4 linked regions of the Homo sapiens genome follow. The protein of the gene in region 1 purifies or fractionates together with the protein of each later gene. This does not show direct contact. Each region holds a gene or a part of one and is shown in the gene's direction. Other genes may lie near its edges.

Region 1 (7,026 bases):
TGGTTTAGAAGCAAATTTGGTATGGCACTTTACCCTGTAGAGACTGGATTTTTTAGGTTTCTTGAAAACCATTCCACTTTGATTATTTACCATGTAGAGAGCATAGATGAATGAAAGATACCACAAATCATTTTCCATGCCGAGCAAAATTTTGTTTCTTTTTAGTAGCGCCAATCTATGCAACTCTCATACGGCTGTCTCTTGGTAGCTATAATAGTAAAATTGGTAATGTTTATTGAGCTCTTAGTGGAGAGTGCTTGTGCTAAGTGCTTCATAAAGATGCTCTCTTAGTCCTCACAGGAGACTATGAAGACATTAAATTCTTACTTTATGAATGAAGAAAGTGAGACTTAGTTTAAGTAACTTGTCTAAGTACTATAACTACTAAGTGGTAGAGTGAGTGATCACACCTAAGCCATAGCCACGCACAGTGGCTCATGCCTGTAATCCCAGCAACTCGGGAGGCTGAACTGGGAGGATCATTTGAGGCCAGGAGTTTGAGACCAGCCTGGACAATAGGGAGCCCCTGTCCTAAAGAAACCCACCTGGAAGAAACCCAAAAAACCTAGGCCAGTAGTCTGCATTAACTAGGCACTGTAATGCTTCCCTTTTGTTGACAAGAAAAGCAAAACAAAATTTAAATTAAAAAATTGTATTCTTTTTAGTAATTGTGTCACATTTTTAGTCTAAAGAGTAGGAAGCTTCAGCGATATTATACAGATGCCTCAAACCTAGTACTGGTGATGCAGCTAATAGCAATTAGAAATTAGAGGTGAAAAGTCTGGTCGCGGTGGCTCACACCTGTAATCCCAGCACTTTGGGAGGCTGAGGTGGGTGGATCACTTGTTTGAGACCAGCCTGGCCAACATGGTGAAACCCCGTCTCTACTAAAAATACAAAAATTAGCTGGGAGTGGTGGTGGGTGCCTGTAATCCCAGTTACTCGGGAGGCTGTGGCAGGAGAATCGTTTTAACCAGGAAGGCAGAAGTTGCAGTGAGCCGAGATCGCGCCACTGCACTCCAACTTGGGCAACACAGCAACCAAAAAAAAAAGAAAAAAAGAGGGATTAGAGGTAAAAGATGAGAAATAGGAAATGAAAAATTTTTATAAGTTTCTGTGACTTGACGATAGATATATCAAACCCAAGGAAATCAAACAACAAAACTTCAAAAATCAATTACATTCTTATGAACCAATTAATAGAAAAAGACCAAATCTTAATAGAAAAATTAGCAAAAAATATGTATGTTATTCGTAGAAGAACTAAGCACAGCAATAAGTATGTGAAAGGCTGTTTAACTTCACAACTAATCAGGAAAATGCTAAAACAAGATAGAGAGAGATGTTTCACCCATCAGATTAGATGAAGGATATGTAGGTTGGTGAGACTTTGAAGAAATGGGCACTGAGGATGGAATATAAATTGGTGCAGCCTATTTGAAGGGCATTGTTAACAGTATCTGTTGACATTTTAAAATACATTCCTTTTGACTCTGTGTTTCTAATTTTAGACATTCTGGAAAATATTTTTAGATGTAACAATCTAAATAACCTTCAATAAAACCCTGATTATGTAAATGATGACACAAAAATACCATAGACTGTAATAAAGCTGTTAAAAACAATGAGTTAGGCTGGGTGTGGTGGCTCATGCCTGTAATCCCAACACTCTGGGAGGCCAAGGTGGGCAGATTTCCTGAACTCAGGAGTTAGAGACCAGCCTGTGCAACATGGCGAAACCCCATCTCAACTAAAAATACAAAAAAATCAGCCAGACGTGGTGGCTTACGCCTATAATCCCAGCTACTTGGGATGCTGAGGCAGCAGAATTGCTTGAACCTGGGAGGCAGAGGTTGCAGTGAGCCAAGATAGCACCACTGAACTCCAGCCTGGGCAATAGAGGAAGACTCTGTCTCAAAAACAAAACAAAACAACAACAAAAAAAACAACAAGCTGAGTGTGGTGGCTCATGCATATAATCCCAGCACTCTGGGTGGCTGAGGCGGATGGATCACTTGAGGCCAGGAGTTTGAGACCAGCCTGGCCAACCTGGTGAAACCTCGTCTCTGCTAAAAATACAAAAATTAGCTGGGCGTGGTGGTGCGCACCTGTGATCTCAGCTACTCAGGAGGTTGAGGCCGGAGGATCACTTGAACCTGGGAGGTGGAGGTTGCAGTGAGCCGAGATTGTGCCACTGCCCTCCAGCCTGGGTGACAGAGGGAGACCCTGTCTCAAACAAAACAACAAAAAAACCCAGTCAGGTAAATGTGCCTACACAGAGCTGGAAGATTTTCAAAGTATGTTTGTCAGTGGGGGGATAAAAGCAAATTGTAGAACAGTATGTATGTACTGCCTTACCCCATTTATTTATATGTGAAAAATTGTTAAACCATATATTTATTTGGGCAGTGTGTGTGTGTTTGTGTCTACACGTATGTATATAAAATACAGAATGAAAGGACAGATTGTAGTGGTTACCTTTAGAGAAGGAGAAATAAAATTGGGGAAAAGGAATGTCAGGAGCTTTCACTTTATGCTTTCTGTATGCTTTTATTAAAAAAACAAATACCAGAAATATGTTAATTATTGGTTATTTAATTAAAAATTTTAACACAAGATTTCATTCATAGAATGAAATTAATTTAATTCTCAGGTAGTTAATTGGAGCTTTTGGTCACTTCATTAAAGATTACCCTTTTAATGTTTCAATTATAAAATCAAAGCTTGCACAGAAAAATGCTGCATGAATGTATAGTAGGAAGATAATTTTGGCATTGAGTAAAATTAACTTTAAAATACTTTGGAATTTAAGAAAAAAACTAATACAGGTCTATTGTAAAAAAATGTTTTTTGTTTACACAATATATTCATATATTTACACATATGCAAATACTTTGCATATTTTGAATGGATTTTTTTTTTTTACAGAAGTAGGATTATGTTATGTATTTCTTTCTAACTTGCTTTTATTTTTAATTTATATGTTATGGACATTTTTCCACGTTTTTAGATCTACCTTATTTTTTTTAATGCTGCACTGAATATTGTTGTATTGTCTAACATATGTGTGCAAGTATTCCTGTGGTTTATATGTTCAAGCTGGAGTGCAGTGGCGCAATCTCAGCTCACTGCAACCTCCACCTCTCGGATTCAAGTGATTCTTGTGCCTCAGCCTCCCAAGTAGCTAAAATTCTCTTTATTATTATTGTTTTTTACTTCCTGCAGTACACCAGCATGCATACTTCTCTTTAGATAGCTAAATCAGCAATAATTTTTCCAATTAATGTGGTTTTTTGGTGTAAATTAGTTATTTTTTAGGCAGTATTACTAGGGATTGAAATTATTTTTTGCTAAAGTTATGTCTTTAATATGAGAAACCTTACAAATTTGTTATCAACAAAGTATAAGAGAAATTTCATGTAGTGGCTAAGTACACACCCATGCCTTTATGGTTTAGCCATGCTCTCTGGCTTTTGATTGTGATAAAATTAAGTGTTTTAAACTGTTCAGGATGTTTAATTATTTTTAAAGGCACTCTCTGTTACACTTTTAAAGGATTTCGTTTATTTATTAAAGGTTCTGTTGGTGCAACTAATATGAACGAACATAGTTCCCGTTCCCATGCCATCTTTACAATTACTATAGAATGCAGTGAAAAAGGCATTGATGGTAACATGCATGTCAGGATGGGGAAGCTCCATCTTGTAGATCTTGCTGTAAGTAACAGGACACTGCTTAAGGAATAACTCTTTCTTGTGATCCATTTATTTTATAAATGAATGAAAATTAAAGTGAAAAGGTATGATTTACATATGATTTTTAAGGTGTTACTTGTGTATGTTTATTATTTATTATGGAACATTTCAAATGTATATGAAAGTAGATAGAATAGTATAGTGATCCCCCATACACTGATCACCCAACTCCCAACAATCAGCTCATGGCTAATCTTGTTTCATGTACTCTCCCCCACTTCTTCCTTTCCTATATTATTTTGAAGTGAATTCAGGCATCATATCAGGTTTTTTACTGTTACATTACTTTTTAATAAAACCTTGGGAAGAATATTCTATTTTTAAAAAAATTTTAGCTTTACTTTCATCTCTGTTTATTGCTAGGGTTCAGAAAGACAGGCAAAAACTGGAGCTACTGGACAGCGCCTAAAGGAAGCTACAAAAATCAATCTTTCACTTTCCACCCTTGGTAATGTAATTTCTGCCTTGGTTGATGGAAAAAGCACTCATGTGCCTTATCGTAACTCTAAACTGACTCGTCTTCTTCAGGATTCCTTAGGAGGAAATTCAAAAACCATGATGGTAAGACTTAATTGGTGATATAGTTAACATCAGGCAAATTTAAGATTGTAATTTATGCCAATAATTGATACGTATCACATTTTTTAAACTTGATTATTTTACTTTTTTTGACTTGTGGTTGTCCTTTTTGTGGTACACTCGTGTATTAGCCCATAATAGTGTCCTTTGGAAACTCATGTGGTTGACACTCTCATTTTCGAGAAGGCCAAGGGTGCATATGTGCTTTAAATGTTTTTGATGTATTTGTAATGGTAGTATTAATTTTAACTCTGTCAAGTGTAAAATGATTTGTTTCATATTTCTAATTCAATAGTGTGCAAATATTGGGCCAGCAGATTACAATTATGATGAAACTATCAGTACATTACGGTATGCCAATCGTGCTAAGAATATTAAAAATAAAGCTAGAATTAATGAAGATCCAAAGGATGCTTTGCTGCGTCAGTTCCAGAAAGAAATAGAAGAACTGAAAAAGAAGCTTGAAGAAGGTAGCTTTTCCTCAAAATATTAATCTTTATGTTGGCTAAAAATACATTGTTGAACCACTAACTGTTCTAACAAAAGCCCTCTATTAAACCTTTTTTGAGCCTCTAACATTGGTAGTTAAATGAATATTTCTAGAAAGTGACTTGGTACTTACATACTTTCGCATTTTCATATTAAGCTTAAGTAAAATTACATAATATTTGTGTATGTGGTTTTTTAAAAACATTTGCATGATGTTTTGTAGATTTCATATGACCACTTTTTAAGGAATGAATGTTTATTTGTCTCTGTATAAGAGCAAATTCTGCAATGTATGTATTTAGGTGAAAATGACCAGAATTCTGGCATTGCAATCAATATCAACTAACTATTGTTTGAAGTAAAGCAAGATATTAGACAGTCATGAGTAAACCAAGTTTGCTATAAGGAAAAATGCATTGCATGACCTTTAAAATATCCTTTCATACCTAAATTTGAACATGAGATTGTATTTTGGAAATTCTTTTCTAACAATATCATGCTAGAAAGTTGGAAAATTTGAAGATCTTATTTATGAGAGTGAGACGCTTCCCAGTCATTAAGTGCTGAGTGAGTCCTTGCACCTTAATGCGAGAAACAGATCCTTTCTGATTGGTACAGAGCTCCTTCGCGAACCACGTAAACAGGGCTTTGGTTTCAAAGCACCTTTGTAGTCTGTGAGAAGACTGACTAGATCAGAGGTGAAATTCAGAGACGCCAGCATCACAAATGTTTAGAGAGGGTACTTATTTAGTAAACAAGTAGTTATTGAGGAAAAGCAGTAAGAGAACTGTTAGATAATGAAATTTGGTGTTTTAAATGTGACCACTAGGTGGTATTTATAGCCAGTATGTTTTAAAGATTTTTAATTTCTTAGCGATGTTAACGGTGAGTGCATACTTTTATTTTGCTGACTTTATGTTTTACATTTTTTTGTTGTGGTAAAATATACATGACATAAAATTTATCATTGTAACCATTGTTAGTTAAGTGTACAGTTAGTGGCATCAAGTATATTCGCATTGTTGTGCAACTGTCACCACTATTCATTTCTAGAAATTTTTCATCATCCCAAACAGAAATGCTGTGCCCATTTAAGTAGTAACTTCCTATTCTTTTCTCCCCCAGTCTCTGGTAACCACTATTCTACTTTCGGTCTCTATGAATTTGACTATTCTAGGTACCTCATATAAGTAAAATCATGGAGTATCTACTTGTGACTGGCTTATTTCACTTAACAGAACGTTGAAGGTTCATCCATATTGTAGCAAGTGCCTGAATTTTATTCCTTTTTAAAAAATTGTGGTTAAACTTGCATAACATAAAGTTTACCATTTTAATCACATTTAAGTCTACATTTCTGTGGCATTACATTCACATTGTTCTGCAGTTATCCGTCTTCAGTTTTCTTCTTGCAAAATTGAAACTTTGTACTCATTAAAAACAGTATGTACCCATTCCTCCCTTCCCCTAGTTCCTGGCCAACAACCATTCTGCTTTGTCTATGAATTTGACTGCTCTGGGTATCTTACGAAAGCGGAATTGGTGGGGCGCAGTGGCTCACGCTTGTAATCCCAGCACTTTGTGAGGCCGAGGCGGGTGGATCAGTTGAGGTCAGGAGTTCGAGACCAGCCTGGCCAACACGGTGAAACCCCATCTTTACTGAAAATACAAAAATTAGCTGGGCATGGTGGCTCTCGCCTGTAATCCCAGCTACTTGGGAGGCTGAGGCAGGAGGATCACTTGAACCTGGAAGGTGGAGGTGGCAATGAGCCGAGATTATGCCACTGCACTCCAGCCTGGGTGGCAGAGTGAGACTCCCATCTCAAAAAAAAAAAAAAAAAAAAAAAAGAAAGTGAAATACAGCATTTGTCTTTTTGTGACTGGCTTATTTCATTTAGTATAATGCCTTCAAGGGTCATCCGTGTTGTAGAATGTATCAGGACTTCTTTTTAATTCTGAATAACATTCCATTGTGTATATACTACATTTTGTTATCCATTCATCCACCAATGGACAGTTGGTTCTTTCCACCTTTTGGCTATTGTGAATAATGCTGCTATGAACGTGGGTATACTAATACCTGTTTGAATTCTTGTTTTACCATTTTTGGGGTATGTACCCAGCAATGGAATTGCTGGATTCTATGATAATACTGTTGTTAATACATTTCAGTTCATTTTTGCTCTTATGACATTTCTTTTTA
Region 2 (7,026 bases), on another chromosome or scaffold:
TCACTGAGGGAGTATTGAGCCACTGAGGACTGGAGGAAGGGCCCCTGGAGCCTGTCACAAAATGCCTGTCTGCACTCATGCTCTCCCTGAAATGCCACAGATCAGACAAGCACCTTGCCCTGGTCATGAAGGCCCCGGGCAGGAAGAAGGTGGCTTCTGTGGCCTGGAGACCTTGCAGAAGGAGGTTGCTCTGAACCTGCCTACCCATCTTGAACTGCCCCTGAAGTATTGCTCCCCTGTGTTTTCAGGCTGTCCCTGTGTGCCTCAGGGTGTCTGGCCTCCTTTTCTTCCCAGACTGTGTGGAAGGCAAGGGGAAACTGAGGGGGATGTCACCACCCAGCAAAAGATCTTTGCCAGGGAAATGACCTCCCTGAGGATGGGGAAGGAAACACTTATCCACCTTCCAGATCTTTATAACTTCACTTGGAATCTCTTCCTAAAGCTGAACCTGAATCTCACTTGCCCTAACCCAAGCGCTCCCCCGCCACTGTGAATACAGATCACACCCAGCTCAGTGAAAGGAGCTTCCTTTCACCTGTCCTGTCTCCTTCCAGGGAAGTCCTAACAACACCAGCACCATTGCCTGCTTTGTCTCACTGCCTGCTTAGCCATCTGTGATTTTTTATTTCAGCCTTTGGCCTGAAATTCTCTTTCTCCCTTCTTCATAGAAGTACTGTTTCCCATCTAAAATTGCTAAGCCTCTATTTCTCTCTGATCAGAGGTAGGGGCTGGAGGCAACATTGAGCCAGGGGAGGTGCCTGCTCCCTTTCTGTAGTTCCTGTGTCTATTCAGCCCTCATCAGGGGAGAGGGGGGCATGCTTGTACGAACTCCGCAGCCTGCACAGTGAAGGAGCTCGCCTCAGGAGCCCCCACTTTGATGGCTTTTTGTATTTGTGTTTGACTATGTCTCAGCATGAGCTTCTGCCCGAGTGTTCTGCTCATTAGAGTTTCTAGAAAGTTGTCCTTTCCTGACCACAGGCATCACTTCTGGGGTTGTTTTCTTGGGACCGAAGCTGAGATTGCAGATGGTAATGGCTATGTGTGCTTTAGCTTGTTCCATTGGCGAAACATACCAATTAAACTTCAAATGAACCAATTCTTGTTTCTTTACAATGTACCTTGGCTTGAAGTTGGAGTTTTAGCCAGAATTTCCGTTGGCCTGTTACAACACATGCAAAAATGCTGGGTATTCTAGGGTGTTTTGCAGCAAATGCTGCTTCTCTGGATCCTGCTCCTTGACAGAGATTTTTTAAAAGTACAAATTCCTCCCCCGACCCCATACCATTGTAAGTATCATTGTGCCAATTGTTCTAGGTTTAGAAATCTGGGAAGCGCTTCTGCGATGGGCCGTGACCCTTACAAGATGTGTAATGTTTGAACAAAATAAAATGGACGAATGTTAGATATCTTCATGTGAAGTTCCTTCTAGGCATACGCTGGACACATGCGCACACATGTATACACACATAGGTCACACATGCATATATGCATGTATACACAATACACCCCACACATGAATCCACACACCCACACATGCACACACGTACACACACATAACATGCACACACTTATGTTATGTGTGTGTACATGTGTGTCCTTGCAGCTGTGCTGTGTCAGGAGCCCAGCCTGGCATCTACCTGGTGTGCGATCTTGGACAAGTCGCTGCCTCTCTTTGGGTCTCTGCAGCTGTCAGAGGTTGGATTAGATCATCTCCAAAGTGCTTTGCAATGGGAACACTCTTTGGAAATAGATTTTATAACTCTCTAGCTCTGCAAACCATTTGCCCAGACCGCCAGCAGCTGTTCTGCCAAAAAGCTCTTCCCCTTAAGGCATGCCACTCATCGTGTCTCTCTCGTAAACATCCTAACATATTAAAAAGTCTTCTCATCCACTCTTCTCAAACTTGGCTACATATTGGAATCACCTGGAAATTTCAAACAACACAAATGCGTGAGTCCCACCCCCAGAGATTCTGACTTAGTGAGTATGAAAGATGGCACGGGCATCAGGACTTCAGAAACTCCCAGGTGATTCTCATGTGTAGCCAAGTTGGAGAACCACTGTTCTAGTCCCTGTCCTTCACTCACACAGATCCAGCATGGGGGAGCACCCCTATACAATGACATACACCCATGTCTTTCTCTCATACACACACACACACGCACACTTAATGTAGTAGTTGCTGGCGAGAGCCTTTGACTCTGAACCCCACCTGAACCCGTCAACCCTTGCCCACTCTAACCCACCACCCTGCCCCCTCACGCCCATCCTGTCCCCACAGGATGCTCCCATGCTCTGCCCAGTCCTCAGGCTTGGTGGTGGCCATGAACAGATCTGCTGAAAGAGCAGCAGGATTGTGGCAGAGCTAGGTCTGAACGCGTCCCAGCAGAGCCTGAGGGAGTCACATGGGCTGGAGAGGGAGAAGAGAGAACACAGGCCACAGCAACCCAGTTTGTTTCAGCATTTCTGTTCAGTACGTACACCCAGGAAAAGGTCAAGAGCCACACCAAAGTGCCCGGTGAGGCTGTGCTGAACTCCTTGCCCTCCCCATCTCCTAGAAGCTGCCGAGTTGGGGAGGCATGTCCACGGTGCTCCCAGCAGCCCAGCAGAGGGGGCAGGAGGCTGGCCAGCCCAGTCCTCCCTCCAGGAGCTGGAACCATCCCGCAGACACAGTCCACTCCTGCCCACTCCGAAACACCTCTGAGGGTATTCTCTCAGCAGTAGCTTCCTGGCAGTTCTTGTTATCTCATTTAAATTCCTATTGCTGTGGGCCTAGCTTTTCTGGGCACCATGGGTGAAAGAGATTTCAGAGGGTGAAGTAAAGGCATTTTCAAGACTAAAAGAAAATGAGCTTCCTTTCTCAAGCTTTTCATGCTGAAGGACAGGTGGGCTTTATTCAAAAGTAGAATATGCTAGAAGAAGCATCGGCCTTAAGGGAGACAGAGTAAGCAAGAATGTGTTCCGAGCAGCTTGCCCTGTGACGAAGGAGAAGGATTTGAGGGGAGGGAAAGTGGAAAAAGCGGATTTCCCTATGACCTCTGTCTGCAGGAAGGCTGATGTCCTGAGAGCCTTCTCTATGTAGAACCTGGGCCTGGGATTGGGGGTGTGGAGTGTGGATCTACCAAAGGTGAAGATTCCTTGCTTCAGGGAGCTCCCAGCTTGGTTGGGGAGACCCAGGCCCTACCTTCTGGGAGGAGTGCACACACACACACACACACACACACACACACACACACAGTGTACAGAAGCCACATTCCAAGGAGCCCACAAGCCAGTGCAGAGTCAGCCGCTGGATTGAGTGCTGACATGGTTATGCTGGCAAGTTTGGAGTGCTCAGAGCTGGGTGCGGTCATCTTTAGGAGAAGCTGATTTTTGTGCAAGGTTTTGAATGCAGGGGGAGGGTTGGAGAAGAAGAGAAAGAATGTTTCAGGTGCAGTAAGTGTGACCTATTTGAAAGCTTGGAGGTGGAAGAGGATGAGTCATCCCTGCAAAGGCTCACCTGCCCCTACTGGAGAGAGATTTCCACTCATCCTAAAGAAGGAGCTGCCTCCAGTTTCAAAGGTTTTGAGGCGAGAAAGCTTGAGTTGCACCGATGACACAAGAAAGAATCAGCCTGTCGTTGTCTAAGGCACCAAAGGGAAGCAGTGTGCCAGGACACTGGTGACCTGAGCGGTAGATTTTCTGAGATGGTTTTACACCCTAAAACGCGGATGTAAAATCAGACGAGCTATGTGGACAGAGCAGGTTGTGTTGCTTGTATACCTGGGAAAGTGGCAGATGCTCTGAGGCACTTGCTCCTTGACCTTGGGGTTCTGTGGGTGGGCAGATGCTTCCTGAGGATGGCACACAGGTTGGGCACACTGTCAGTGTCACCGAGAAGCCACCACATCCCTGCTCATGCTGCATGCACCCATATGGGGAGAAGAGGGGCAAAGCAGATGCTTAGCTGGAGGGTAGGAGTGATTCTGTGGGGTGAGCTGGGAACTAGCCCCTCCCCCATTCCCCAGGAACTAAGAATCCTCCTCAAGGAGGTGGCCTTGGGTATTTGAGAGCTGCAGCAGCCCTCCTCTCTTCCTGGTTTACCCCACTCACCAGGGACCTCTTTGAGTGGGAGGAGAGCCTGACCCCATTCTAAGCCTCTAAGCACCAGGCATCAGAGCACGTTCACCACAAGGGTTGGGCAAGGGAGAAGAGGTCATTGACGCAAAGAGCCAGCTCAAGCCAGTCAGGCCCAGACCCAGCTGGGGCAATGCCCTGAACTCAAGGTCCCAGGGAAAGAAAGACATGGTTCGCACTTCAGAGAGTGTCCAAAGTACATGGTGGTGGAGACTTGTACGGGCGTGAGATGGAGATGGGAGTAGGCGTCATTCATCAGGAAAGGCTTCCTAGAAGTGCATTCTAGAGACATCGGGGACCAAGTGGAAGAGTGAGCTAGCACCATTACACTCATTAGAAGCCCATGCTCTTGCTATTGAACTTGACTTTTAGAGGGCATTACTTACCAGTCAGACACCCCAGGGTCAAGAGAGGGAAAATCACTTTTGTTGTGGGAGCAGTGCTCTTACAGACAGAGCACACCTGCCCCCAGTACTCCTTGGTTATCTGGCACACTGCGAGCTGTGATTTCAGGTGTGTGACAACTATGGACTTTTCCCCTCTCTCACCACCTCCGCCCCAAATACTGTCACCTTCTGCCAGATTAGCAGTGCAGGCAGGTGTGATGTTACCCTCATTCTCACCAGAGCCAAGCAGACCCCAACTACAGATAGGTCTTAGGAGATGCCTTCAGGAACTGCCTGGAAGGGCCTGCAGGCCACAAGTGAGTGACAGTCACACCTGCCTTTACCAGAGTTCATGCTGGACATGGGGACTGGCTTTGGGAACTGCAGGGCATTCTGGCCTCTCCCTCCATGTGTCTGTGTGTCCACTGCCACCTCCATGGCAGAGAGGCCTCTACCTTCATACAGAGAAGAGTGTATGAGAGGGAGGCAGGCAGGTGCAGGGTGTGGCGGGAGGAGATGGTTAGTCTGATGACCCATGGGGAGAGCAGCATCATGCTGACAGGTTCTCTCCCAGAAGACGGGCAAGAAGGCCCTGGTGCAAGCCCCCCGGGGCTGCTTCTCATAGCAGGAGGCCTCCCCGGTGCTCCATAAAGTTCTGTCTGTCACCACCCCAAATTTTCCACCCAGAAGCAGCTGACTGACCCACACCTGACCTTTGGTGAGAAATACCTGCTCACAGGGCCAGATCCAAATGAACTCTATCCTATCAAACCTTGGAAGAATGATCAAAGTGGGCTGGGTGGAAGGGAGGCAGACAAGACCTGGTGGTTGGCCACCTAGGGTCCTGACTATGAGTGTGCCTGGCTGCAGCCCCCTTCCTTGGGAGCACCAGTCCTGAGTGACTGAGCCCATGAGATTGCCTCCAGCCTCTTCCTGATAAGGACAGTCTTGCCAGAGGAGCGGTTGCTGGAGAAAGGTGGAGGAAGAGCTGTGTGCACTCTACAGGGAGCTTGGAGGAAGCCAGAGGTTCAATGGGCCACATGGCAGAGTCCCAGGATGTTGCTCATAGGCGGATGGCCCTTCTGGAGTCAGGGCTAGGCCTGGAGTATAGGGGAGGCCTCTCAGAGGACCCTGAGGCAGGTGGCAAACGAGGCGGTAGTGTGGCCTTTGATGTCTGCCCTTCTTCCTTGTAAGCTGAGCTGTGTCTCTGGAGAGGAGGAGTCGGCTCCTCTGAACGCAGTCAGGCACGTGTCACTATCATCACACCACCACAGGGCAGTGGAACTGTACGGGGCCTATGGGAGGTAAGAGGCCAACCCTCTCTTTTGACAGAAGAGGACACTGAGGCTCAGAGAGAGCAAGTGACTTGCCCAGGTGCCAGAACCAGGACAAATATCAACACCGCTAGGCCCCCAGGGCAAGCTGTGTCTGCCACAGCTTGAGACCCCTAATGTCCATGATGGAAGGGTGCAGAGAGTTGGGCAGCACTCTCTGCTGTGGGCTATGGGTGGTGACCTGGCGCTGGACAGGGGAGGTGGCACGAGGTGGGGATCCCTGCCTCATTCCAAAGCTGCCCCTTGGCTATTCCCTCTACTCCCAGCTCAGATATTCCAGCCCTGCTCCCCCAGGCAATGGCCGGGGAGCCTAAGTGGGTGTGGCAGATGGGGAGGAGCTACCTTGGCTGGGTGAGATCACTGCCCAACTCTCTTCCCCACAGACAGGGTTTCCGATGGGGGAGTCTGACCATCGCTTTAGAGAAAAGGAGTGCATATCCCTCTTAGGAGGCTCTCACTGGATCCCACTCACCTTCATCCCCCAAGGCCATCACTTAACAAGAGTGTGGGCCAGGCCACGGAGCCATGGCTTGCTCTTCGTGGAGCTCCCAGTATAGCTGAGGGAATGGGACGCAGGGCAGAATGAGACTTGGGCTACCAAGAGCAGGACAGTATGTGTTTAGAGGCAGGAGAGATTGCCTTGTGCAGAACTGATCAGAAAGGGCTTCCTGGAGTGGGTGAGGTCTTGAGCTTGGCTTCAAAAGATGAGCAAGATTAGAAGGTAGTGGCCAAGGAGGGAAGGCAGGTTTGGCATGGAGGGAGATGTGAGTAAAGTGGTGAGCCTGTCACCATTGGCCATATTTCAAGGACAGCAGGACAGTGAACAGACCAGCTTGTGCAGAGTTGATGCTATCCCTTAGGGTGTCCCTGCTGGCCAGTGAAAGGGAGATGAGGGGGGTGGCCCCACTAGGAGCCCCAAATCCAGTTCTGTTTTCTGTGATGCAAAGCCACTTTGCCACTAATAACCCTAATGACACTCTGTCCTCCTGCGGAGCCTGTCATTTGTGGGTCTCCAAGCACTCCGAAAACATTAATTAATCCTCACTGGGCCTTTGAGGTTGATCGCCGCTCCCCCTTCACCAGCCAGAGCATGTTAGAGGTGAAAGAATGGGAGGAAGTTTGGTCACTGGTAGGGGCTGGGCTGAGATTTGAATCCAGAGTCCTGTCCTGAATCAATCTCTAATCAGCTG
Region 3 (7,026 bases), on another chromosome or scaffold:
GAAATGTAATCCCTAGAGTCACTTGAGAAGTGTAATGCCAAAGCATTAGAAATAATTTTGAAACTGAATGAAAAATATCTTTCCTGACTTGCCAGTTCTAGAAAGATTTTTGCAATGGTGAAAGAAAGGAGAGAGATGATTTGCAAATGTTCAGTCCTAGAAATTAGAGTTGGAGAAGACCTGGGACTGATCGTGGGCATATGTGACAACTTTTGAAGTAGTCTTTATTTTTCTTTCTCCATTTTTTCCCCTGTCCTTTAAGAATTATCTCCAATTCCTCACTTCATACATGAAGCTTTCCCCCATGACCCTGGCTTGTACTGATCTGTTTCCTTCCTAACCACTCATGGAGCTTGGGGTCTTTATCATGAACTTGGACACTGCATTTTCTTCCCTCTGCATTGCCCTCTAATTGCTTGATGTACATTAGTCATGTCTGCAACTGCAGTAAAACACCCTGATGATAGATAAGAAGTTTTGGCGTATATTCAATAATCCCCCTTCCCTGCACGGAACTTTGTCATTGACAATATCCTATGGAGGATCCAGTACAGGGCAGGCATTCAAAATCATTGAAGTAAAAGCTAATCACCTTATCAACTGAGTTGTTCTGGTTGTTTTATCTTTGAATAAGGGGAATGGGCAAAAATCTGGGGAACAAGATGGTGGGTGCCAAAGTTTCAGTAATGTGAAAACATTTGGAAACCAAAGTTAGGCACATCCTTATGCACAAGGACGAGATCGAAAATGAATTGAAATCATTTTGCTGAGACTCTATAGCCCTCAGATGGTGCAAATTAACTTTTATGCTTGGTACCTATGCTTGATTATAGGGTTCAAAAATATAATTGAGTCTATAATCACTAATGTTTCCTAGAAAGTATAGGATTTAGGAGTTAGATTCTATTTAGAAATACTTTCTCCAGATAAATATACTTCTCCTCCTCCTTGGAGTAAATGGGGACACTGGGCTCCTTTGAGTTGCCTGGGGATGGTGTCAGTATTTTGATCTATTTATACCAGTCCTGCTCAGGCTCATAAAGTCCTTAATTAAGGTGTGTGTTTGGTGGTAAAGCCTGATCCTTAATGGAAGTAGGGTGGGGTCATCTTATTTAAAGCCACAGTTCTCACCATAGACCTCATTAGGCCATCAACACACATTCAGCCTTTTTCTTCCCAGTGAAATGCAGGGTTTTCATGGACGCTAACTCATGGGTGGAACTGCGCTTGAACATAAGTGAGGCTAGCCACTGCTCAAACCCCATTTTTGTAGAGTCTGTTAGTTGACCCAGCCACATCACTGCATCAGCCCAGTGTATGGCAAGGGGCTTTGAGTATTCTAAGAAGCAGGCCCTAGGATAGGTGTGAGAGAGAACTCACACATCTATCTGAAAGAAGGACCAACTGAGGGGAAGCAGGGAGGAGACAGAGGTTTTTGTGAGCTTTGAAATAAAGAAAAGAATATCATCTGGTAAGTGCATGGTCTAAACAAATGGTAACTTTCAAATCTCAACTTCTGTCTTATCAGCACCAAAAATATTTTGTTTGGACTGATGCCATATGAATCTCTGGGAACTGCTGTTCTACCCTATATCAGTAAGTGATTGTTTCTGGCTGCCACTAGAGACTGGAGTATAATGTCTTTAACAAATTAGGATTTTGTATTCATTTGTAGAAGAATCCAGAAGTGGGCAGTCCAAGGCTGGTGGGATAGATGGTATAACAAGATATCAGGGGCTTTCTGTATTTCTGATCCACCATCCTTAGCCTATGTGCTTTAAACCCTTTGTGGTTTCCCTCCTCAAGCACATTCATGGTCACAAGATTGCTGTTGGATCTCCAGCCATCGTGTCTACATTCCAGGAAGAAAGAGAGAAAGGCAAAAGGTAGAAGCAGAACAATTTTTGCTGCATCAGCCTTTCAAAGGGTTCTCATTGAAACCCTACCCAACCAATTTTACTTAAATCTCATTGGATACTCATAGCCACAAAGAGGACTTGAAAAAATATAACGTTTCAGCTGTGTACTTTTCTGCCTGAATAAAGATAGAATTTACCTCTGACACTAAGAAAGAAGGGGAGCATGAATATTGCAAGGCAGCTGGCAGTCCCTGCTCCCCTCCCCTACCTCAGTTCTCTCCTGTTTTCCATGATTCACAGGCATCCTCTTAGTCCCCATCTTGCTTTTCCCACCTCCATATGATGGACCCCCAAGGCCTGGTTAGCAGGATCTGAAAGATAACTCATTGACAGTATAATAAGTTAGCTAAGTGTCACTGAGTATTTACTATGCTCCAGGCATTGCTTTAAAAGGTTAGCACACCATGAAGTGGGGTGACCAATCTTCTGTCTCTGGGAGGGAGATCAGGTGGCATCGGGAGGATTTCTCCAGCCAAGTGTAGCCCAGCCTTGGTCTTAGGGAGATGCCAAGGCAGTCCAGTTTGCTGGTAAAGTATGGGGCTCTGGCATCAACTGTCACATTTAGAATTCTTGCCCCACTTTATGGGCAAGTAATTCAATCTCTCTTTGCCTCAGTTTTCTCATCAGTAAAATAGGGATAGTGACAGTACTTGCTTTGAGGGTGTATCAGTTTTCTGTGGCTGCTGTAACAAGTTACAAACTAGGTGGCTTCAAACAACAGCAATTTATTCTCCCCCAGTTTTGGAGGCCAGATGTCTGAACTGCATGTGTTGTCAGGGCCACAATGCCTCTGGAGGTTCTAAGGGAGGGGCCATTCCTTGACTCTTCCAGGTTCTGGTATCTGCCAGCATTCCTTGGCTGTGGCTGCATCACTCTGATCTCTGCCTCCATTTTCATATCGTCGTCTTCTCTCTGTGTGTCTAGCCTATCTTTGCCTCTTACTTATAAGGATGCTTTTGATGGTGTTTAGGGCCCACCCAGCTAATCCAGGATGATCTCCCCATCTCAAGATCCTTAACTTAATCACATCTGCAAAGACCCATTTTTCCAATAAGTTTCTGTGGATGAGGACTGCGGAGTTATCTTTGGGACTTAGGATCTGCACATACTCAGACACAGTGCCTGCCACTTGAGAGCACTTGATCAGCTCTCGTGGTAGCTCTGCCGTCTCACGGGGTTCTTTGGAGAGCAGGAGCCCTGGGGGAAAGACCTTGGCTGGTCACATTTTCCTCTTTTCTAACAAAGCTTTACGCTTTACCAGAAATAATCATAACTGTCATTGATTCAGCACCACTCTCCCAGTTGCTGTGTGTGTGGCTCTACACCTCTTCTCATTGAATCCTTATGATAGCTCTACCATGGTCACTGCTTTACAGCAGAGGAAACTGGTTCAGAGAGGTTAAGTCTCTTCCCCATTTCACAACCAGCAAGTGAGAGAGTTGGGATTCAAGCTCATTTTCATTCCCCCTCATCATGCCATTTGTTTTGAACACACCTTGTATATGAAGGGCTTCTGTGGAAATGAAGAGTGAAAAGGAAGGACCCAAGACATAGGTGGTGCCAGGGACCCAGAGTGAAAGAATGTATATAGAAGCACATCCAGATGGTATTAAAAATTATTAATCTAATAGGGAGGGTGCAGCTTCACCAAACTGAATGTGCAATCTCCGTCTCCACCCTTCCTTTTTCCAAGTGACATTTGTCTCAATCTCATCTTTTTTTCTCCTTGGTGAAGAACGTTCCTTCTCAAGCTCAAACAATATTTCTTGTCCTTATTGTGACTCTTATGATCTCACATGTTGGATCTGACCACACTCTCTGCTAACATTATTTTGCAGTTTATCTTCATCTTATATTTCCCTGCCCTCTACACAGACATGTGGGCTCTGGACAGTAGAGTTGGCAGTTAACATTGTAAAACTGTGTTTACTGTCAAATGCATGTTTTGCTTCCCAACTAGATGGTAAAACTCTTGCATGCAGGGACTGAGATTAATACATCTTGGCCCCAGTTTCTAGTTTTATGTCCCAGACATAGTAGATGATCAGCAATTGCTCCAAGGAAGCTATCAGAAAACATCCCTCTAAAAGATGCAGAGGTCATGGGATTGCTGGGTGGTTTATATCCCTGCAAGCTACGAACTCCTGAGAATCTAACCTGGAAGTCCAACTCTGTACTGTGTAGGGGATTCCCAAGGGCAGGTTTGTTCTGATAATGATTAATCTCCTCTGCTTTTGGAAGATATCTCCATCCACAGGATTGGCCCCAGGCACTGGCAATGTAATGTTCCAAGTCCCCATCTTGTCTTTAAGGCAGTTGTTAATGTTAACCTTCCTGGCCCCACTGGATTCTTTTGCAGCAGGAAGTAGACACCTCCTTAGCTTGAGTCAAGATGTTAGAATGCAGATTGAAAATGTTCTTGAGGAATAGTGATTGCTCAGCCCCTCGCCATGGCTACGTGATAAACAACAGATGGCTCACCAATGCAACATTCTAACAAATATACTCCATTTAAATTGGAGGTTGCTTCATGGGGATGGCTCCCTTGAAGTTACTTCCTTACTTTGTTTCTTGGGCAAATTTGCATTTTATAGAACTCAAAGGAGCTGGAGTTTCTGTTCTACTATTACAAATGCATAATATGTTCTCAATGGGTGGTTTGCTGTGTAGACACTAAAACAAACTACTTTCTCTTATTTCTATCCCTTCCCACTTCTTTTTTTACTTTCAAGCTTTTTTTCCTATTAGTTAAAAAAGTATAGGATCTCACTGTATTGCCCAGGCTAGTCTTAAACTCCTAGCCTCAAGTGATCCTCCCACCTTGGCCTCCCAAAATGCTGGGATTAGGCATGAGCCACCACACCCAGCCTCAACAAATTTTTATCAAATAGTTACTATAGTTTTTGTTTTGTGTGAAGTATCTTCCTAGGGCACCTTCATGGGTCAACCCTGTCCTACTCTTGATGTGGAGTCAGTGCAGGGGAAGAAGTCCTGGGACAAGGAGGAAGCTATGGGTTCTCTTCACTGTCTGAGCAGGAGGCTCCTCCTGCAGCAGAGGAAGAGAGGGTCTTGCAATAATAATTAAATGCCCCCACCCAGAAGTGACACGTGGCATTTCCACTCACAGCCAATTTGCCAGAACACTATGGCCCATCTAACTTGCAAAAGCAGAATCACTGTGGTCTTCTTTGGTTAGGAGGAAAGAAAAATTAGAATACGCAAGCCCTAAAAAGCTCTACTACAGGAATCATTTGGTGATCTTAGGAAAAAATACAGATACCATGGTCTTGCCAGTAGAAAGTCTGATTCCATTGCCCTGAAGTGGGGCCTGAGAATAAAAATTTGGCAAATGTTCCAAATGATTCTGATGCAAGTGGTACATGGGTGGACATTTGGGAACCACTGCTTTAGAAAACCCAATCCCCCCTTGGGGTGACTATTGGCTGTATAGGTGATAAGACTGATATGTGTCCAGGAATATGAAAAACAGTCAATGTATAACTCAGTGCCAAAATATGAAGCATACCATAAGTGCTCCAGTCCCTACAGGGACTCAGCAAACACTTCACTGCCCCTCCTGATACTTATTTTGCCTCTTATTTAGTGCCTTTGCCAGACAACTCATGGTAAGACCTGGTCTTGTGGAGGTGATGGAGAAAGGTCTTGGGCAGAGGTGGGGTCAGGACCTCTTAGCAGATTAAAAGCAGGAGTACATATGTGAAGATGTGAGCATGTGTGCTCCACATGCATCTGCATGTGTGTATACTTTTGTGTCTTCATGTGTGCAGTGGGAGAACAGGGTAGAGAAGTAGAGTCCAATGTCCATCCTTCCCTATAGGGCCTGTTGGAATGATAAGGTCCTATGAATAATAGTTTTGTATTATAGTTTTTACCCATCAGGCTGAACCCAGAGAGCATACCAGGGATTCTGAATCTAATCCTTGCTGTGCCACCTTACTGGGTGACCCATTGTCAGCTATAAAACTGGGCAACTCTGAGGCTTATTAGCAAGCTTGGGGATGACTCAGTTCTTCCTCTGCCTCTTCCTCTTCCTTCTCCTTTTGCACAGCCTGTTCAATCAGGAGTTGTATTCAGCTACTCTTTAACAGAATCCTGAAAAACAGAAGTGGTTTAAATCGATTAAAGATTTATTATTATTGCTTACATAAAAGAGAGCCAGAGGTTGGCAATCATCTGGGTCCCAGGTTCCTTTTGGCTCTCACTTGACCATTCCTAGGGTGTGACCCTCTTCCTCGTTATCTCAAGATGGCTGCTGGAGCTCCAGTCATCATGTCTACATTTCAGGCATGAATAAAGGGAAGAGAAGAGGAGAAAAATGGTGTCTTCCAGCTACACCTGGAGAAGTATCATTGAGTGACTTCTGCTTACATCTGATTGGCTAGAATTATGTCACATGACTATTCCAAGTTGCAAGCAAGTCTGAGAAATGTAACAGCCTCTATTATAAAGGTCCAGGGGTCAGGCATCCCAACTTTTATATCCCATTCTCTTGCACAGGGAAATGTAAGTCTTTGCCTTATAGAGTGGGAGAGGGCTAACTCTTGCTCCTGGGTAGACACATGCAGGCTTAGTGGATGCTTGGATACAAGAGACCCAGAATGTTCATACACAGTCCCAAGACTTCAGCCTCAATGCCTGAGAGGAGAGTTGGCAAGCCAGAGGTTGAGCAGGGATAGTGAGCAGATGCCATGCTCTCTGCTCCAGAGGCCAATCCCCTTGCAGAGCAGAACTCAATCCAACAACACCCTTTGTTGTGGCAGCTTTGTTTTTAGAAATAGAAGGCATGCAAGAGAATTTTGGCCCCTTGGAGGCCAAACAGCATGGGTCTTCTTTTTTTTTCAATAAAACGTGAGCTTGTTTTTAGTATTGAATTTGTAGGTACAGAGTAACCGCCCCTCCCCCTACAACAGTATAAAAGAGGATGAGTGAAAGTAAACTTCTCCTCCGTCCTCCCTCCCACCTGTGGCTTCAGTCTCATAGTCTGGAGGCTACACTTTGTTTCCCTGGTCACTTTCCAGATGTATTCTTTGCATATGGGTAAATGTGCATTGTTACACACACACACACACACACACACACACACACA
Region 4 (7,236 bases), on another chromosome or scaffold:
GCTCCCAGCAAGCCTCGCGCAAGCTCGTGGACTCCATCTCCCGGCGGGCCGGCACTGCCCTGCCGGGCGGTCAATGGCCCGCTCTGAGTAGGTTTTTCCGTTTTTACCTGACAGCTGAGAATGTCTGGAAGCGGAGGGGCGGTAGCAGCCTGCCTGGGAATGGGCCACCCCGAATCCCGACCCGAAATAAATGCACCAGCATGCTGACGCGGTAAAACAGGAGCCGCCGGCAATAGCAGTTTCACCCTCATCCCACTGAGGGCTCTATGTTGGCTCCCGCCCCCATCCCGACAACCCCCTCGCGCCTTGGCGGTGATTGGTGAAAAGACACATCAATCTCACTTCAAGCTGTGATTGGAGGATATGTTGTCAGCCCCCTCCTTTTGGAACTGTGATTGGAGGGAATCGCCTATCCGCCCGCCCCCTGCTCTGGGCGGAGCCGAGCAGGAAGTGGGCCTGGCTTTTGCCAGGTGCTCCTGTGGGCTCCGGGTGACGTCCAAAGGGTGTGGCCCGACTGGCCCTCCAAGCTATGGAGTATCCATAGTAACGCGTCAGCCGCCGACCTCGGGCCATTTTCCCAAGGCTCCAGGATCTCTAGATGTCCCGTCGTCTCAAGGGCGTGTAGAACGCGGGTTTTGGGGGAGGAATGAACAAAAATCGACTGGGAGTTTTTTCAAAACACGTACATATGCCCTGCCACCCACCCCGCTCTCCTAGGTGCGTCAGAACTGCTGGGACATCTGTCACGTGAAGGGGTGGGTTGCCCCTCCACACCTGTGGGCGTTTCTCATTAGGTGGAAGGAGAGACTTGGAAAAGAAAGAGACAGAGAGACAAAGTATAGAGAAAGAAAAATGGGCCCAGGAGACCGGAGTTCAGTTTACGGAAGATCCACGCCGGCACCAGCCTCTGAGTTCCCTTAGTATTTATTGATCATTATCGGGTATGGCAGGATAATAGGATAATAGTGGAGAGAAGGTCAGAAGGTAAACACGTGAACAAACGTCTCTGCATCGTAAACAAGGTAAAAAAAAAAATGCTGTGCTTTTGATGTGCATACACATAAACATCACAATGCCTTAAGAAGCAGTATTGCTGCCAGCCTGTCCCACCTCCAGCCCTAAGGCGGTTTTCCCCTATCTCAGTAGAGATAGGCTTTACACCGAGACATTTCCATTGCCCAGGGACGAGCAGGAGACAGAAGCCTTTCTTTTATCTCAACTGCAAAGAGGCATTCCTTCCTCTTTTACTAATCCTCCTCAGTACAGACCCTTTATGGGTGTCGGGCTGGGGGACGGTCAGGTCTTTCCCTTCCCACGAGGCCATATTTCATCACATGGGGAGAAACCTTGGACAATACCTAGCTTTCCTAGGCAGAGGTCCCTGCAGCCTTCCTCAGTGTTTTGTGTCTGGGTACTTGAGATTAGGGAGTGGTTTGAGATTAGGGAGTGGTGATGACTCTTAAGAAGCATGCTGCCTTCAAGAATTTGTTTAACAAAGCACACCGTGCACAGCCCTTAATCCATTTAACCCTGAGTTGACACAGCACATGTTTCAGGGAGCACAGGGTTGGGGGTAGGGTTACAGATCAACAGCATCTCAAGGCAGAAGAATTTTTCTTAGTACAGAACAAAATGGAGTCTCCTATGTCTACTTCTTTCTACACAGACACAGGAACAATCTGATCTCTCTTTCTTTTCCCCACAGTCACGTGTACTTGGGGAAGAACTCCCCCGGTGATTCTGACACTCTTGCCCTACGCCTCAGCCATTGAGAACTATTGGTATGGAGGGCCTGTAATTTATCAAGGCGCGGCCTCAGATCTGTCTGCCTCGCAGATACCTTCCTCACCCGGGTCAGAATGACTTGCCTCAGGCTCCTGCCAAAGAGTTTGCACCACTCGTTTCTTCCCTGTAATTACTTGTTTGCGTATTTGTCTCCCCACTGGGCTGCAGCTTCTTGGGTAGTGGCTCTGTTTTATTCATCTGTCCTCTTCCCTTCCAAATGCTTGGCAAGGAAAAGTGCCCTTTAAAATAAATCGACTTGAATTGGGAGTGGTGGTAGGGAGGCTGTCAATGAGAATGAATTCAGGGTGAAACTAGGTAGGACAATGTCCCAGGATTAGTTTGGGGTTGAGCTGGGGAGCTCTTGGTGTATGGGGGGGTCCTATTGTGACTATGGTGGAATAGCCACGATACTGAGTGACATTGGGCGAGTGAGGTGGGGGAGAGACTAGACAACACCCCACATAACCCATCTTGACAGATGTCTCAGAAAGATTATGGGAATTTCCTGGCCCCTCTGCAATGTGGGATTCCATTTTGCTACCTCTAGAAGGACAGGGTCTTGTTTTCATAGCTCTGCCTCCTACTCTGAGATAAAGGCATGCAAGACCTGAGCTACTACTACAATACCCCACACAGAAGGAGAAAATCAGGCACATCTGGATTCAAGTTTTGTGGGTGATTCCATGATTGCCTCCAGTGAACAATCTGGGAAGCACAGTGTCCATATCGCCATTTCAGGGGTACTGGCCCCAACATCAGCCCTTAGGCCTAAGCCCTAGAGACCTTGACACCTGGTGGCTGAGTCAGTATCTCAGTAATGGGCTTTAGAAGGAAACCTGGTGATTCAGGGCCTCAAGAATGGCGTTGGGCAAGCCACCAGACCAGCTGCCTGGGTCTCCTCCTCCTTGTTGAGGTGACAACAAGGAACTCAGTTCAGCTCCTCCCTGGGTATCCAAATTATCCTTCCAAGTCCCAGACTCACAGCTGTCCTCCCTTCTGATTCAGCCCTGATGCTTTTCAGGGGGTCCCAGAAGTGGGATCCGGACTTGAGAGAATGTCACAGTTGAAAATGATAAGGATGCAAACGGAATGGAACTTTCAGAGAACCCCAATTTTCTACTCTAAGTTCTCCAAACCAACTCTCAAATCCAAGATAGCTGCCTTTCCTTTCTTCACCTCCTCTTCTTAGTTTTCCCCAACTTGGCTGCAAAGTCAGCCTCCCCTCTTCTCTTCCTTAGCACCTCAGACCAATAAAACATGCAACCTTTTCTTATTCTTTTTAAAAAATTTATTTTTGACCAGGCGCAGTGGCTCACGCCTGTAATGCCAGCACTTTGGGAGGCCAAGGCGGGTGGATCACGAGGTCAGGAGTTCAAGACCAGCCTGGCCAACATGGTGAAACCCCATCTCTACTAAAAATACAAAAAATTAGCTGGGTGTGGTGGCACACACCTGTAGTCTCAGCTACTCAGGAGGCTGAAGCAGAAGAATCACTTGAACTTGGGAGGCGGAGGTTGCAGTGAGCCGAGATTGTGCCACTATACTCCAGTCTGGGTGACAGAGTGAGACTGCCTCAAAAAGAAAAAAAATTATTTTGTTTGTTTTTTAGATTTTGTAGAGATGGTGTTTCCCTAAGTTGCTCAGGCTGGTCTCGAACTCCTGGCCTCAAGTGATCCTCTCGCCCGGGCCTCCCAAAGTCCTGGGATTACGGGTGTAAGCCAACATGCCTGGCCCCTTTACTTCTTCTTTTCTGTTTTGGTCACAAAACATTTCTCTGTTGATCACTGTAGTGTGTGTGTGGAGGGAAGTGGGGGAGGTACACTCTTAAGAAATGAAATAGTTAACATCTTGGTCCTAAGATTTGTTGTAGAGATGGAGTCTTCTCATTCTGTTCCCCAGGCTGGTCTTGAACTCCTGGCCTCAAGCAATCCTCTTTCCTCGGCTTCCCAAAGTGCTGAGATTGATTACAAGTGTGAGGTACTGCGCCCTGCTACAATCCTTTAATAGGATGTTTTTGGGGGGGGTGGCAGGGGGCAGGATCTAGCTCACTGTAACCTATACTGTTCCAGTGTAACCTGCACCAAGCCATCCTCCCACCTCAGTCTCTTGAGTAGCTAGGAACACAAGCACACATCACCACACCTGGCTCTAACACGATTTTGCTTTTTGCTTTTGTCATTTTGGCTGCTGTTCTTTTTATCTTTCATTCATTCAAGGTCTGAAGATGGAGATAATAGGAATCTTCTCATCTCAATGTGCTCTTTGGCCCCTCCTCTTAAACTGATGCCCCTCTCAGGCCCTGAGGGATTTGGCCTCAGGTTGCCCTGGAAGGGGTGTGAGTGATCAGACAGGTGACTGAGAGCTGGGACGCCTGAGGCCTGCCTAGGCTGAGTCACCTAGTAATGTTGTTGTCATTGTTCCTGTTGAAGTCCCAGCTCAGTGTCACAGACCTTTGTGGAAGCAACAACAGCTCCCATCCTTCCAACCTTTCTGGAGAAGCCGTGGCCTGATGGTGAGCCGAATGGGCTGGGGGGGGAGAAGAAGGCGGCTGGGGCGGTGGGGAGATCTGGGGCCCGGATCGGTGCCCCTCCTCCCCATGCCACTGCCACCTCCTCCTCCTCCTTCATGCCGGGGACCTGGGGGAGGGAGGATCTCCATCTTCTCTCTGTCCCCTGCCCCTCATACAAGAAGCTCCCCCTCCTCATTTTCCCCTCCCACCGCAGGGCCCCCTTGCTCAGTGCTACAGGGGACAGGGGCTTCTCAGTCTTGCCACAGTGCTCTCCCTATCCCAGCCACCCCCCCAACACAGGCTCAACCTGCAATGACACCTGCCTCTGCATCTCCCTCCTGGGGATCCCACTCCACCCCACCCCTGGCCCCGGCAACCCCCACTCCCTCACAGCAGTGCCCCCAGGACTCTCCTGGGCTGCGGGTAGGCCCTTTGATCCCTGAACAGGATTATGAGCGGCTGGAGGACTGTGACCCTGAGGGGTCCCAAGACTCACCCATCCACGGGGAGGAGCAGCAACCCCTGCTTCATGTCCCTGAAGGGCTCCGAGGTATGTGTGTGGGTGTGGGTGGGAGAGGGTTAGTGGTGCCTGGGAGCTCCAGTACTTATCCCAGGCTGGGCCTCTGGCAGCGGGTTGAGAACGTGGAGAATTGATCACATGCCAGGGGCTGACACTCTCCCCTCTGTGCCCAGGCTCCTGGCATCACATCCAGAACCTGGACAGTTTCTTCACCAAGATATCCTTTGCGCTAGGCCTGCAGAGGTGGCATGGGAAGGTCCTCTTGGAGCTGGCACTGTTCTTGGCAGGGAGACTCCGTGAGGGCGTCATGGGTGGGAGACTTGTTGGGGCTGAGGGGAGGTGTCCTCAGGAGAGGCCCCCCGTGCCTCAGGCTTGTTCCTTGACACGCAGCCACATCTACAGCTACCACCAGCGGAATGGCTTTGCCTGCATCTTGCTGGAGGATGTCTTCCAGCTGGGGTGAGACGCTTAGCCCGGGCCCGGAACTCGGTCCCCTGGGCCCATGGCTTCCTTCTGTCATTTTGCTTCCTTAATTGTGCCAGCTGCTTCCATCCCATGCTTTCCCGAGCAGCCCAAGGGCTCAGCAGGGGCAGGGTCAGGGAGGATAACCATGGGCTGCTCTGGGGGCTGGGGCAGGAGCCCACCTGGCTGTCCCTGATCACTGCAGCATCCCGGCACCCCCCCTTCCTCCCGGCAGACAATTTATTTTCATTGTCACCTTCACAACCTTCCTCCTTCGATGCGTGGATTACAATGTTCTCTTTGCCAACCAACCAAGTAACCATACCAGACCTGGGCCGTTCCACAGCAAAGTGACCCTGTCAGATGCCATCCTACCCTCAGCCCAGTGTGCTGAGAGGTTAGTGACAACCTGGTGGGGCCCTGGGGGTGAAGCATGGGCAGTGGGTAGAGGAGTAGACGGGAGCCCCACTTTGTCCCGTCATCTAGATCAGCAGTTCTCAAAGCTTTTGGTCTTAGGACCAAAAATACACTTAATATACTTTAAGTTGTACTTAAGTGTATTAAGTTGTACTTAAAGTGTATTAAGTATATCTTTTTTTTTTTTTAAGACAGAGTTTCACTCTTGTTGCTCAGGCTGGAGTGCAATGGTGAGGTCTTGGCTCACTGCAACCTCCACCTCCCAGGTTCAAGCAATTCTCCTGCCTCAGCCTCCCCAGTAGCTGGGATTATAGGCGTGCACCACCACGTGTATTTTTAGTAGAGACAGGGTTTCACCATGTTGGCCAGGCTGGTCTGGAACTCCTGGCCTCAGGTGATCCACCCACTTTGGCCTCCCAAAGTGCTGGGATTACAGGTGTGAGCCACTGTGCCCGGCCTTTTAAGTGTATCTTAATTACAGTGCATTAAGTGTATCTTAATACACTTAAAATTGGTTGAGAATCCTGAAAAGCTTTTGTTTATGGGAGTCGTATCTATCCACATTTTACCTTATAAAAAATTAAAATTAGGCCGGGCATAGTGGTTCACACCTGTAATCCCAGCACTTTGGGAGGCTGAGGCAGGAGGATTGCTTGAAGCCAGAAGTTTGAGATCAGCCTGAGCAACAAAGTGAGACCACATCTCTATAAAAAATAAAAATTAGCTGGGCTTGGTGGTGCGTACCTGCAGTCCTAGCTAAGCCTAGTCAGGAGGCTAAGACAGTGACTGTCTCTGATCACTGCAGCATCCCTACACCCTCCTCCCTCCCAGCAGACGATTCATTTTCATTGTTGCCTTCACAACCTTCCTCCCTGAAGCATGGATTGCAATGTTCTCTTTGCCAACCAACCAAATAACTGTTCCAGACCTGGGCCGTTATTTGGCAGGGAGATAGGAGCTATGTTTCTACTGCTGCACTACAGCCTGGGTAACAGAGAGAGACCTTGTTTCAATAAAAAGGAAAAAAAAAAAAGAAGGAAATTGTAGCTGAGAACAACTTTAAAATGTAAGAGTGCGGCTGGGCGTGGTGGCTCACACCTGTAATCTCAGCACTTTGGGAGGCCGAGGCGGGCGGATCACAAGGTCAGGAGATCAAAACCATTCTGGCCAACATGGTGAAACCCTGTCTCTACTAAAATATACAAAAATTAGCCAGGTGTGGTGGCGGGCGCCTGTAGTCCCAGCTACCCTGGAGGCTGAGACAGGAGAATCATTTGAACCCGGGAGGTGGAGGTTGCAGTGAGCCAAGATTGCGCCACTGCACTCCAGCCTGGGCGACACAGCAAGACTCCATCTCAAAAAAAAAAAAAAAGAGTGTACAAGCACACATTTCATCAGCTGTCAGTGTGATGTGACATGTTCACGTGTCTTGTAGCCTCTGGAAAACTCCACTGTACTCTCAGAGTACAAGAATGAAAACATCAGAAAGCATTAGTATTATTTGGAAAAAGTTTGACTTTGCACATTTGTGAAGGCCACTTCA

Evidence for each region.
Region 2: the proteins of KIF3A (region 1) and PKP1 purify together in Homo sapiens (affinity purification with mass spectrometry; 2 studies listed by BioGRID and IntAct, with this or other methods). This does not show direct contact.
Region 3: the proteins of KIF3A (region 1) and HEPHL1 purify together in Homo sapiens (affinity purification with mass spectrometry; 2 studies listed by BioGRID and IntAct, with this or other methods). This does not show direct contact.
Region 4: the proteins of KIF3A (region 1) and ATG9B purify together in Homo sapiens (affinity purification with mass spectrometry; 2 studies listed by BioGRID and IntAct, with this or other methods). This does not show direct contact.

What each region holds. Positions count from the first base shown.
Region 1 is NC_000005.10:132,713,535-132,720,560, reverse strand, and holds part of KIF3A (kinesin-like protein KIF3A), read left to right. Parts: intron 1-3,576; coding exon 3,577-3,716; intron 3,717-4,118; coding exon 4,119-4,316; intron 4,317-4,629; coding exon 4,630-4,804; intron 4,805-7,026. UniProt on the Homo sapiens protein: Microtubule-based anterograde translocator for membranous organelles. Plus end-directed microtubule sliding activity in vitro. Plays a role in primary cilia formation. Plays a role in centriole cohesion and subdistal appendage organization and function.
Region 2 is NC_000001.11:201,286,490-201,293,515, forward strand, and holds part of PKP1 (plakophilin-1), read left to right. Parts: intron 1-7,026. UniProt on the Homo sapiens protein: A component of desmosome cell-cell junctions which are required for positive regulation of cellular adhesion.
Region 3 is NC_000011.10:94,024,339-94,031,364, forward strand, and holds part of HEPHL1 (ferroxidase HEPHL1 precursor), read left to right. Parts: intron 1-7,026. UniProt on the Homo sapiens protein: Is a copper-binding glycoprotein with ferroxidase activity. It oxidizes Fe(2+) to Fe(3+) without releasing radical oxygen species. May be involved in the regulation of intracellular iron content.
Region 4 is NC_000007.14:151,021,482-151,028,717, reverse strand, and holds the start of ATG9B (autophagy-related protein 9B), read left to right. Parts: upstream 1-4,223; 5' UTR 4,224-4,294; coding exon 4,295-4,844; intron 4,845-4,987; coding exon 4,988-5,031; intron 5,032-5,208; coding exon 5,209-5,273; intron 5,274-5,511; coding exon 5,512-5,673; intron 5,674-7,236. Other genes in the region: ABCB8 (mitochondrial potassium channel ATP-binding subunit), read right to left, coding at 108-202. UniProt on the Homo sapiens protein: Phospholipid scramblase involved in autophagy by mediating autophagosomal membrane expansion. Cycles between the preautophagosomal structure/phagophore assembly site (PAS) and the cytoplasmic vesicle pool and supplies membrane for the growing autophagosome.